Linked DNA regions of Homo sapiens. The protein of the gene in region 1 purifies or fractionates together with the protein of each later gene. This does not show direct contact. Each region holds a gene or a part of one and is shown in the gene's direction. Other genes may lie near its edges.

Region 1 (3,144 bases):
TTCTCAGGGATTACTGGTTGGGGGCAATGTGGAAGAACAACTCTGGATCTCTCATCCCTACTTAACTGGAAAACTCTGGTATTATCTGTTTTTATATATTGAGCTTTTGTCCTAAGATATTTAGGCCAAATATTCTATGGGTAAATACAAGTATGAAAATCATTGTAATAAGAGTCACTGAAGGAGTTTTAAGCACAGGAGTTACAGCAGATTTGTGCTTACAGAAAGATAACTAAAAACAGCATTCAAAATATATTCCCTTCTTGTCTTTATCATTCACTTATGTTCTTATTGTCCATTTTTATTTAAAAAAAATTTAAATCTTTGTTTTTCTCTCATATGCTTGTAGCTCAGTTTGAATTTGACAATGCCCAAGCACGTCGGAAGAGCCTGCTTCTCAAATTCTTACCTGTTTTTGTCCTGGGTACCATGCTTTTTTGTTTTGTTTTGTTTCGTTGAGATGGAGTCTCCCTCTGTCGCCCCGGCTGGAGTGCAGTGGCACGATCCTGGCTCACTGCGGCCTCTGCCTCCTGGGTTCAAGTGATTCTCCTGCCTCAGCCTTCCGAGTAGCTGGGATTACAGGCGCCCGCCACCACTCCTGGCTAATTTTGTATTTTTAGTAAAGACGAGGTTTTACCATGTTAGCCAGGCTGGTCTCGAACTCCTGACCTCAGGTGATCCACCCACCTCGGCATCCCAAAGTGCTGGGATTACAGGTGTGAGCCACCACACCAGGCCTTGGGTACCATGCCTTGAACCATTTCAGTGCCTTTTGGAGATGGATGAGTTGCCAGCATCCTTCTTAGATCCCTATATATTTGTTTATTTATTGAACAAATACATATTAACTTATCTTTTTGACCAAAGACTTTTACTAGGTGCTTTATAGGTTACAAAGTTCTTTCACATTATCTTATTTGGGCCTCATAATTATTCTTTGTGGCAGGGAGGAAATGTACATATTTTACTGATAAGACTGAGGTTGGCCTGGTGCAGTGGGTCACGGCTGTAATCCCAGTGCTTTGGGAGGCTGAGGCAGGTGGATCACGAGGTCAGGAGTTCGAGACCAGCCTGGCCAACATGGCGAAACCCCGTCTCTTAAATCTTAAACAAAGATTTAAATTTTTTTTAAATAAAAATGGACAGTAAGAACATAAGTGAATGATAAAGACAAGAAGGGAATATATTTTGAATGCTGTTTTTAGTTATCTTTCTGTAAGCACAAATCTGCTATAACTCCTGTGCTTAAAACTCCTTCAGTGACTCTTATTAACAATGATTTTCATACTTGTATTTACCCATAGAATATTTGGCTTAAATACAAAAAATTAGCCGGGCGTGGTGGGAGGCACCTGTAGTCCCAGCTACTTGGGATGCTGAGGCAGAAGAATCACTTGAACCCAGGAGGTGGAGGTTGCAGTGAGCCGAGACAGTGCCACTGCACTCCAGCCTGGGCGACAGAGTGAGACTCCATCTCAAAAAAAAAAAAAAAAAAAAGACTGAGGTCACAAGGTTAAGTGACTTACTCAATATTTGACTACCAAACACCTAATTCAGAACTTAAACTCAGTTTGTGGACTCTAAATCCTTTGCTCTCCTTCTATACCACAGTAGTGTTGATCTCAAGAGCTTAGCATGTTGGCTTAAAGACATCCAGGGATGAGGTGTTGGAGTCAGATTGAGTTTGAATCTTAGCTCTACTTGTATTACTGTGTTATCTTGGCCAAGTATTTAACCTCTCTGAAATAGGTTTTCTCAGGGCTGTGAAGTTTGGAAGATACATAAAAGCCCAAAGAAAAAAATGAAAAATCAGTATAATCACCACTCTGAGATAACCACTGTGGTAATATTTTTGAGATTTTTAAAATTATAAGAATAATATATGCAACACTTTTTCACACTCTAAAGTACACCATTTCTTCCTTTTCCTCATCTCACCCTAGGGGTAGCAGTTACTTGTGTGTTGTCTTGTAGACATTTTTCTATGTGTATAAAATGTATTCATCATATCCCCCCCTACACACACACACTTTCACAATTGAAGTCATATTACACTTTCTACAACTTGTGGTGACATGGATTTAATTCGATGTCATTATATATAAATCATTGTTTTTACCTGTATCATATAATTCCATTGTATGGGGGGAAATTGGTAATTACTTTGATTAAATTAATTTAAAACTTGGCAGTCTGTGGAGACATTTTTGATTGTTAGAGCTTGGAGGGGCCATCCGTGGGAAGAGGCCAAGGATGCTGCTGGAAACCTACAATGCCCAGGACAGCCCTCAACAAAAAATGTTCTGGCTTCAAATGTCAATAGCTCTGAGATTGAGAAACCCTGTTATAGTCTTTTTTGGGGGGGTAGTTTATTGATTTTCCTCTTCTCATTGTCTTCTATTAATTTTCTGAGCGTTGTTTCTCTTGTATTAGCATAACTTTCTCATTGGCCTTCTTAGGCATAGCTACTTCTTGAGACTATTCCAGATACCTAATATGAACTGATTGGGAAAATCTTGAACTTGGAAAAACATCCCGTTTACCCTAGGCTTTCATCTGGTTCTTTGGCTAAAACCAAATCTGTTTTTCTTTCTGTTTTGTTCAACTCAGGGTCTCAGCTTCTTGGAAGTGAAAGACCAGCTGCTGCTCATGTACCTTATGGATTTGACCCACCTCATTCTGGACAAAGCCTCAGGAGGATCTCTTCAGGGACATGATGCAGTTTTGAGACTGGTGGAGATTCGCACGGTATGAAGCATTTGGCTTCTTGGAGTTTTAGGTTTCTAAATTTTGAGCTCCAAGGGTATCACACAGTAGCTCTCATTTAAGTGAGTCTTCTCATGTTTAAGGAAACCAAATGAGAAAAGGTATTTTTCTATTCATTTGCTCTACTTTGTACATATTTTAGGTGCCTTATGTGGCACCTTAATATAGGGACTCTGGTGTGTGCTTCATTTTGGGAAGGAAATATAATCCTGATTAACTACCATGTTGTAGGTTTTGGAAAAGCTTCGTCCCTTGGACCAAAAGCTGAAGTATCAAATTGACAAGCTGATCAAGACTGCAGTGACAGGCAGCCTTAGTAAGTGAGGAGACCATCATGAAGTTGTGGGGACCATCAGAAAGTTCCAAATTTTGTAAAAT
Region 2 (3,659 bases), on another chromosome or scaffold:
AGGTTGCAATAAGCTGAGATTGCACCACTGCACTCCAGACTGGCTGACAGAGCGAGACTCTGTCTCAAAAGTAAAATAAAATAAATAGGGTAAGTAGGACTCCGTCTCAAAAATAAAATAAGAGGGTAAGTAGAGTTGAGTACTCATTCATTAATTTGTTCAGTTGCTTTGCCACTAGTATGTGGCAGGCAGAATATGAGTAAGGCGTCGTCACCCATCTCAGGGCTGTCGCTAGCTTATATGATGCCTTTATGCAAATTAGAAAAAGGCATGCTCTCTGGACACACAGAGCTCCCAGGGGTCACACTTTGGTGAAGAGATGGCGCCTTTGAAGCAACAGATTTTTTGCCCCTGAGCAGACACAGCCCCCTCCAGAGTGCATGGCTTGGTGAGTGTAGGATGGCCTTGATTTTAGCCCTTCTTGTCCTTTTATAAATGCCCCTGTGCGGATAACAGCCTGCTAAACTTTGTGCAGTGGCCCCTGTCTAAAGCAACATTGTCTAGTAGAAATACATAATTTTGGATTTTCTAGTAACCACATTAAAAAGTAAGATGAAACAGGTAAAATTATTTTAAATAATATATTTTATGTAACCCAATATATCAAAATTATTTCAATATGTAATCAATATAAAAGTCAATGTATATTTTACATCCCATTTTCTACTCATTTCATACTAATACTATTTTCATATTAATGTCAAGTTAGACAAAACGCATTTCAAGTGCTCCGTTACCACATGTGACTACTGGCTACCATATTGGACAATATAGATCTAAAGTAGAAGAAAGTCAGAACCATAATACAAAATGCAATAATAGTAAGTGCCGTAAAAGATGTTTAGCAGAAAGCCATGGAAATCTGGAGGAAGAAGTCACTCAAGATGTGGTAATCAGAAAAATTCATAGGGGACGCACTACTTTGGGGTGTGGAAAAATTTAAGTTTGAGGACCAGAGTGTGCTACATGGAAAGAACTTTTTGAGCAAAGATGTGATTGGGCATGTTCAGAAGAGGTCAGTAGTCCCGTTTGATTAGATAATAAGGTCTTGAAGGGCCAAAATGAGTAGCAGCGAGAAATGATTGTTTGGAACTAGGTGAGAGACAGCTGGCTCTAGTTTGCATTACGTGTTTACTAATTAAAATTTTTTGTCACCTCCAGCAGCAAGCAATTTTGAGTGTTGATGTTGCTGATAGTTGAAGATGTAACTGAAAACCAGTAGTAGTTCACATGAGCCAGACCTGTGATTACAGGATCCAAGGAGGGGTCTTGATAGGCCGAGAGGTCTTGATAGGCCAAGAGGTCTTGATAGCCCAAGAGTTCTTGATAGGCCAAGAGGTTTTGATAGGCCAAGAGGTCTTGATAAGCAGAGATCACACTGTGAGGGTAGAAGGTATCAGGCAGTGGAGTGAATTCTGGATAGCAAGGACTAGGGAGTCAGTGGTGGTATCCCATTTTACATTTGTAGTGGAACCAGGCAGCAGACCTCTTGAGGTGTGGGAAGAAAGGATAGGAATCCGGTTACTAAAATTGAAGAATAAGATTGGAGTGGGACCGGCAGCAAAGTTGATTTGACACTGAATTAGTGAGGTAAGTTAGTCTAGCATCCACTTCATTTGGGGCACTGAATTAATATAACATAGCTATATAATCCTTTAGATTGATTTTACAGACTTTTTTACATATCTTTTCTCATTTAATTTTCTTAGTTACCTTGAGCAATAAGACTGTATCAGCGAACAAGATTAAAGTGACTTATGTAAGGACATGCAGACCTGGAACTGCAACTCAAGTCTTCTGACTCCTTCTACCCCACCACATTGCTTGCAGTAATTTTGTTGGTTCCACAGTCTAGGAAAGGCATTACTCATAAATAAGGATTACACGGCTCCATATATAATCTTCTGTTCATTATCCATTCATCAGTTATTACAGCAATTACTGTGTGCAAGGGCCTTTTTAAGTGCTGTGAAGTAAAGGTGATGTGAGGACTTGCAGTGTGATATTTGTCATCATGAAATGTTCATGCCCAGCACTTGCACTCCTCAGAATCTATTTTACATAAATAATTGGATGTGTGCAAAGAATGTGCATTGCAGCATTATTTTTAAAATAAAACGGTAACTGGCTGGGCACAGTGGCTCACCTTTATAATCCCAGCACTTTGGGAGACCGAGGCGGGTGGATTGCTTGAGGTCAGGAGTTTGAGACCAGCCTAGCCAACATGGCAAAACCCGGTCTCTACTAAAAATACAAAAATTAGCTGGGCATAGTGGTGCACACCTGTAATCCCAGCTACTTGGGAGGCTGAGGCACGAGAATCACTTGAACCCAGGAGGTAGAGGTTGCAGTGAGCCAAGATCGTGCCACTGCACTCCAGCCTGGGCAACAGAGCAAGACCTTGTCTCAAAAAATGAAAATAGAAATTAAAATGGTAACAAATCATTAAGAGATTAATTAAATATATGCAAACATCTGTGATCTATGAAGTTTTAAAAATAGGTTCCAAAATAACGATATGACCAGTTATTTTAAACAAATTAGTATTTAAATTAAAGAAAAGAAATTTAGGGATATGGTTGTATACTAAAATAACCAGTTATCTTTGAATGAAAAATTACTGCTAGTCACCTTTGTTTTATTTATTAACCATATTTTCCTAACTTTTTTTGGTTTGTAATGATCATTCATTATGTTTATAATTGGGGGAAAATGGTAAAGCAGTTTTTTTGGTTTTTTTTTGTTTTTTGTTTGAAGTAGCTGGATAAGTAGTAATGTTTACAGTCACTACTAGAGCAATACTGTCTAGGAATAGAGACATTTATATTTGTGTAACCCCACATTATCTTGCACAAGGCTGTGTACATTGTGGGCTCTAAGCAGATACTTTTTGGGGTTTTTTATTTTTATTTTTGGAGACAGGGTCTCGCTCTGCTGCCCAGGCTGGAGTGCAGTGGTGCAATCACAGCTCACTGCAGCCGCAACTTCCTGGGCCCAGGTGATTCTCCCACCTCAGCCTTCCGAGTCACTGGGACCACAGGTGCACCCCACCATGCCTAGCTAATTTTTGTATTTTTGTAGAGACAAAGAGTTTTGCCATGTTGCCCAGGCTTGTCTCAAACTCCTGGGCTCAAGATCCTCCCATCTTGGCCTCCTAATATGATGGGATTACAGGCGTGAGCAGCTGTGCTCGGCTGCAGATACTTATTGAATGAATAAATACTCTGAATGCAGTTGATATTGTTAAAAACATTGAAATGGAAGACCTCTTTAAGTCTCTTATGCAACACTTTATTATTATATAACCCAAAGTGTGGTATGTGTACCATTGTCATAAGTGAGAAGATTTTTGATGATACTCAAACTTCTAAAATATTAATAGTTATGTACTGTGTCAACATCTTAGAAAACAATGTAATTACCCTATCACTTCTGTGACTTTAGGAATATTGTTTAGAGCAAAACTAACTTTTAAAAAATTCAATTTAATAAAAAAATGATATTCAAAAATCATGAAAATGGTATAATGACTGACAGTTGAGAAATATTGCAATACTAGATAGACTGGGTCTGTAAGATGTTATTTCTAAGCTTGTTGCTTAAAAGTAAATTCTGCTTACCTCATAGTAACTTTCAATGTTGTGTTTTTCAGATCTCAT
Region 3 (3,659 bases), on another chromosome or scaffold:
CAAATCAATTTCTAATTTAAAAAAAAAAAAAGCTCAGACTTAGGAGAGAGCCCTTATACATTTTTATGATAGAAATTTTATGTTAGATAAATGTTATGATTCAAAACAAACTTAAAAATTACTGAAACATTTTGGCATTTGGGCTCTAAACCCAGAAAGTAAAAGTAGACTTAAAAAAATCAGAAGAATGTATGTACGCTTATATGTGAAATTAGGCACGTTAGTATTAGACCATGCCAAGGTTTTTAACACCTGCTTCTAATAACTTGAAAGGTCAAATTGGCATTTTTTTAAATGAACTTTTTCTTTTTTGCTTGGGAATACTACCTGATGTGTATTTTTAAATCAACTTTATCTTTGAACATTTTTGATTTGTAGGAAAGTTGCAGTGGAGAGTTCCTGCATTATCCTTCAGCTGGTTTCCCCTAATTTTTTTTTTTTTTTTTTTTTTTTTTATACAGAGTTTCGCTCTGTTGCTAGGCTGGAGTACGGTGGCATGATCTCGGCTCATGGGTTCAAGTGATTCTCCTGCCTCAGCCTCCCGATAGCTGGGACTACAGGTGTGCACCACCACGCCCAGCTAATTTTTGTATTTTTAGTAGAGGCGGGGTTTCACAATGTTGGCCAGGATGGTCTTGACCTCTTGACCTTGTGATCTGCCCACCTTGGCCTCCCAAAGTGCTGGGATTACAGGCCTGAGCCACTGTGCCCAGCCTTCCCCTGGTGTTAATGTCTTACATGACATGGTACTTTTATCAAAACTAAGGTTAACATTGCTACATCATATAAATTCCAGACTTTATTCAGGTTTTACCAGTTTTTCCGCTAATGTTCTTTTTCTGTTTTAGGATCCAATCCAGGATACCCATTGCATTTAGCCTAATGTATATTTTACATATGATAGTTCAACTTGCATTTTCCTTTTTCAGTTCTTGATGAAGCAGATAGAATCTTGGATATGGGCTTTGCTGATACCATGAATGCTGTTATTGAAAATCTCCCCAAGAAACGTCAGACTTTACTTTTCTCAGCAACACAAACTAAATCTGTAAAGGACCTTGCACGCTTGAGTTTGAAAAACCCTGAGTATGTCTGGGTTCATGAAAAAGCAAAATATAGGTATGTACTCTTTGAGTCAATCAAGATAAATGTTTTTTACTTTTTTAGTTTAGGGATTTGGTATTTTAAATATCTGTTTTCTGGGAATTAAGACATTCTATGAGTTATTGGTTATGCAAAGCATAGTAAATATACCAGTTAAAATTACCCAAATTCTGCATATATCTTTAAATGTCAGGGTACTTGAATGTAGCATTTCCCAAAATGTGGTCTGGGAGGGGAACAAATGTTTTTCCATAGATGTTAAGAGGTATTTTACCATTTGCCAACACTACCTCTTAATAAACGAAGGGAGAAGGGATGAAATAGCAAATGGTGAGTCAAAGTGAAACAGTTTTATTTCTATTTCTCACAACCTTTAATATTTTCAGGGACATTGTGATTGTTGAAAGCAGTGGGAGGGAGGTGGATGTAGCTTGCTACATTTACCAAATTTTTTGGGTACGGAATCATCCTTTTTAGCAGGATTATGCAGTACTAATGTGTTATGGAACACATTTTATGAAGTGCATTAATATTTAGCAAAATACCTTTCAGTCTAAAATTCTAGCAACTATTGTTTTGTCTTGGTCTCATTAAAAACTAGAGCTTAAAGTATATGTGTTACAGTAAAAGTATGTATGTTTGTGATATGCAAGTAGTTGGGGAAATTTTTATTTATCTCTTTTTTTCGAGACAGGGTCTTGCTCTGTCACCCAGGCTGGAGTGCAGTTGTGTGAATATAGCTCACTACAGCCTTCAACTTCTGGGCTCAAACAATCCTCCTGCTTCAGCTTCCTGAGTAGCTGGGACAACCAGGGCATACCACCATGCGTGGCTAATTTTAAAATTTTTTGTAGAGTTGAAGACTTACTACATTGCCCAGGCTGGTTTCAAATTCCTGAGATCAAGCAATCCTCCCACTTTGGCCTCCCAAAGTGTTGAGATTACACTCAGGCATGAGCCACTGTGCCCAGCTGGGATATGTTTTAAGTTGTATTTTCATATGACAATTAGAAGCATATATATTTGGTATGAATCACTGCAGACTTCCAGGAGAAATGTTTTCCAGTAAATATAAAGTTGGATTTTTTGTTGAAGATAGCAATGTAAATTCAACTCTTCTATTATTTATATCTTAAAATTTTTATTTCTTCTTGCTCTGAAATGTTAGCCTAAAAAGAAATAGATTTGGAAAATGAATTGTGTTATCTGGAAATTCCTTAAATAGAGAAAATATGAGTATTCAGGCCCATCTTGACCTTGTATAATGTATGTCTAGGATTTAAAAAGCCTGAGACGAAGAGGCCAGATTCTTTGCTTCTGGGTGATCTTGGGGAATCTGAGTACTGGTATCTTTGACTTTCAAGAACTTGGGAATGGAATAGTAAGATATGTGAGGTATAGTTTTTTTCCCTTGGCTTACTTTCGAGTGGACATTGATCTCTTAAAGAGTTGAGATAGCTATGAAAATTTTTGTGACAATTAACAATTAACTTGAAAATGTAAAGACTGCTTGTCTAGGATTTTTCACTTTTCTCTTTTTTCTGTTTGCCTCCAGCCTATTTTTAATATTCATCAGACAGATTTTTTTAATCATTAGATGTCTCTAAGACCTTTCATAATTTATGCAAGTTAATTTGTACGTATTATTTCCTATCCCCAATTTCTGTAGGTAAGAGTTGGTTATTTTCTGTAAATTACAAAGTTTTAGAAAAAAACTACAAAGACTTTGATATTATTTCACAAATGATTTTTGAAACCCGGTCCCATCACTTATAAAAGTGTGGTGGACAAAATTTTCAGAAAAAAATTTTGGAAGGTAGACATGTATTGACATAATTTACAAAACCTCAGGTTATATGATAATGGCTGCAGTATTCTAATATTCCAAATTTATAGGAAACATAAAAAAGCAGATGCTCTTAGGAATTTCATCTAATGTCAATGTTAGCTTTTCCACTTTAGTAGCTTATCAATGTGGTTCATACACCAGGAGAGATAATAATCAAGAATATTTTAAGGTGTTAGAGAGTATCTACTCTCAAATTGTGAAGGACACAACAACTAAAGAAAAATTAGATCTTTCTGAAGTTGTAAGTCAGAGCATACTTAGAAAAAGTATACTAGTGTTTTCATTATGTGGTTATATATAGACAACTGGTATTTCTAATGATTTTATTTTTGAGAGAATATGCCTTTGGGCCATAGCAATTTGCTGTTTTTCAGTGACAAGTTGAATTCTATGGTGGATTATGAAAAATTTCAAATTTGAGATATGTCATGAGCTTATGTTATTAGGTATATACAAATTTAGAATTGCATTGTCAATTTGAAACATTAATCATTATGAAATGCTTCTTTTTTGCATGTATGTGCTTATTTTCTGTGGACAGTCTGTCTTTTTTGGTTTGGTTTTTTTGCCTTTTTCTTATTGGCTCGGAGGAGCCCTTTAGATAAATTAATTATTTATTTGTAATACGAGTAGCAAAACACTTCCCTACTCCCGGTGTTTTTTCATTTTATAAAATGTTTCTTTTCATCTTTACTAATTCTTTTTT

What was found.
Region 2: the proteins of NGDN (region 1) and ESF1 purify together in Homo sapiens (affinity purification with mass spectrometry; one large-scale study listed by BioGRID and IntAct). This does not show direct contact.
Region 3: the proteins of NGDN (region 1) and DDX10 purify together in Homo sapiens (affinity purification with mass spectrometry; one large-scale study listed by BioGRID and IntAct). This does not show direct contact.

Annotation. Positions count from the first base shown.
Region 1 is NC_000014.9:23,472,561-23,475,704, forward strand, and holds part of NGDN (neuroguidin), read left to right. Parts: intron 1-2,610; coding exon 2,611-2,748; intron 2,749-2,997; coding exon 2,998-3,082; intron 3,083-3,144. UniProt on the Homo sapiens protein: Part of the small subunit (SSU) processome, first precursor of the small eukaryotic ribosomal subunit.
Region 2 is NC_000020.11:13,778,302-13,781,960, reverse strand, and holds part of ESF1 (ESF1 homolog), read left to right. Parts: intron 1-3,659. UniProt on the Homo sapiens protein: May constitute a novel regulatory system for basal transcription. Negatively regulates ABT1.
Region 3 is NC_000011.10:108,678,442-108,682,100, forward strand, and holds part of DDX10 (probable ATP-dependent RNA helicase DDX10), read left to right. Parts: intron 1-929; coding exon 930-1,119; intron 1,120-3,659. UniProt on the Homo sapiens protein: Putative ATP-dependent RNA helicase that plays various role in innate immunity or inflammation. Plays a role in the enhancement of AIM2-induced inflammasome activation by interacting with AIM2 and stabilizing its protein level.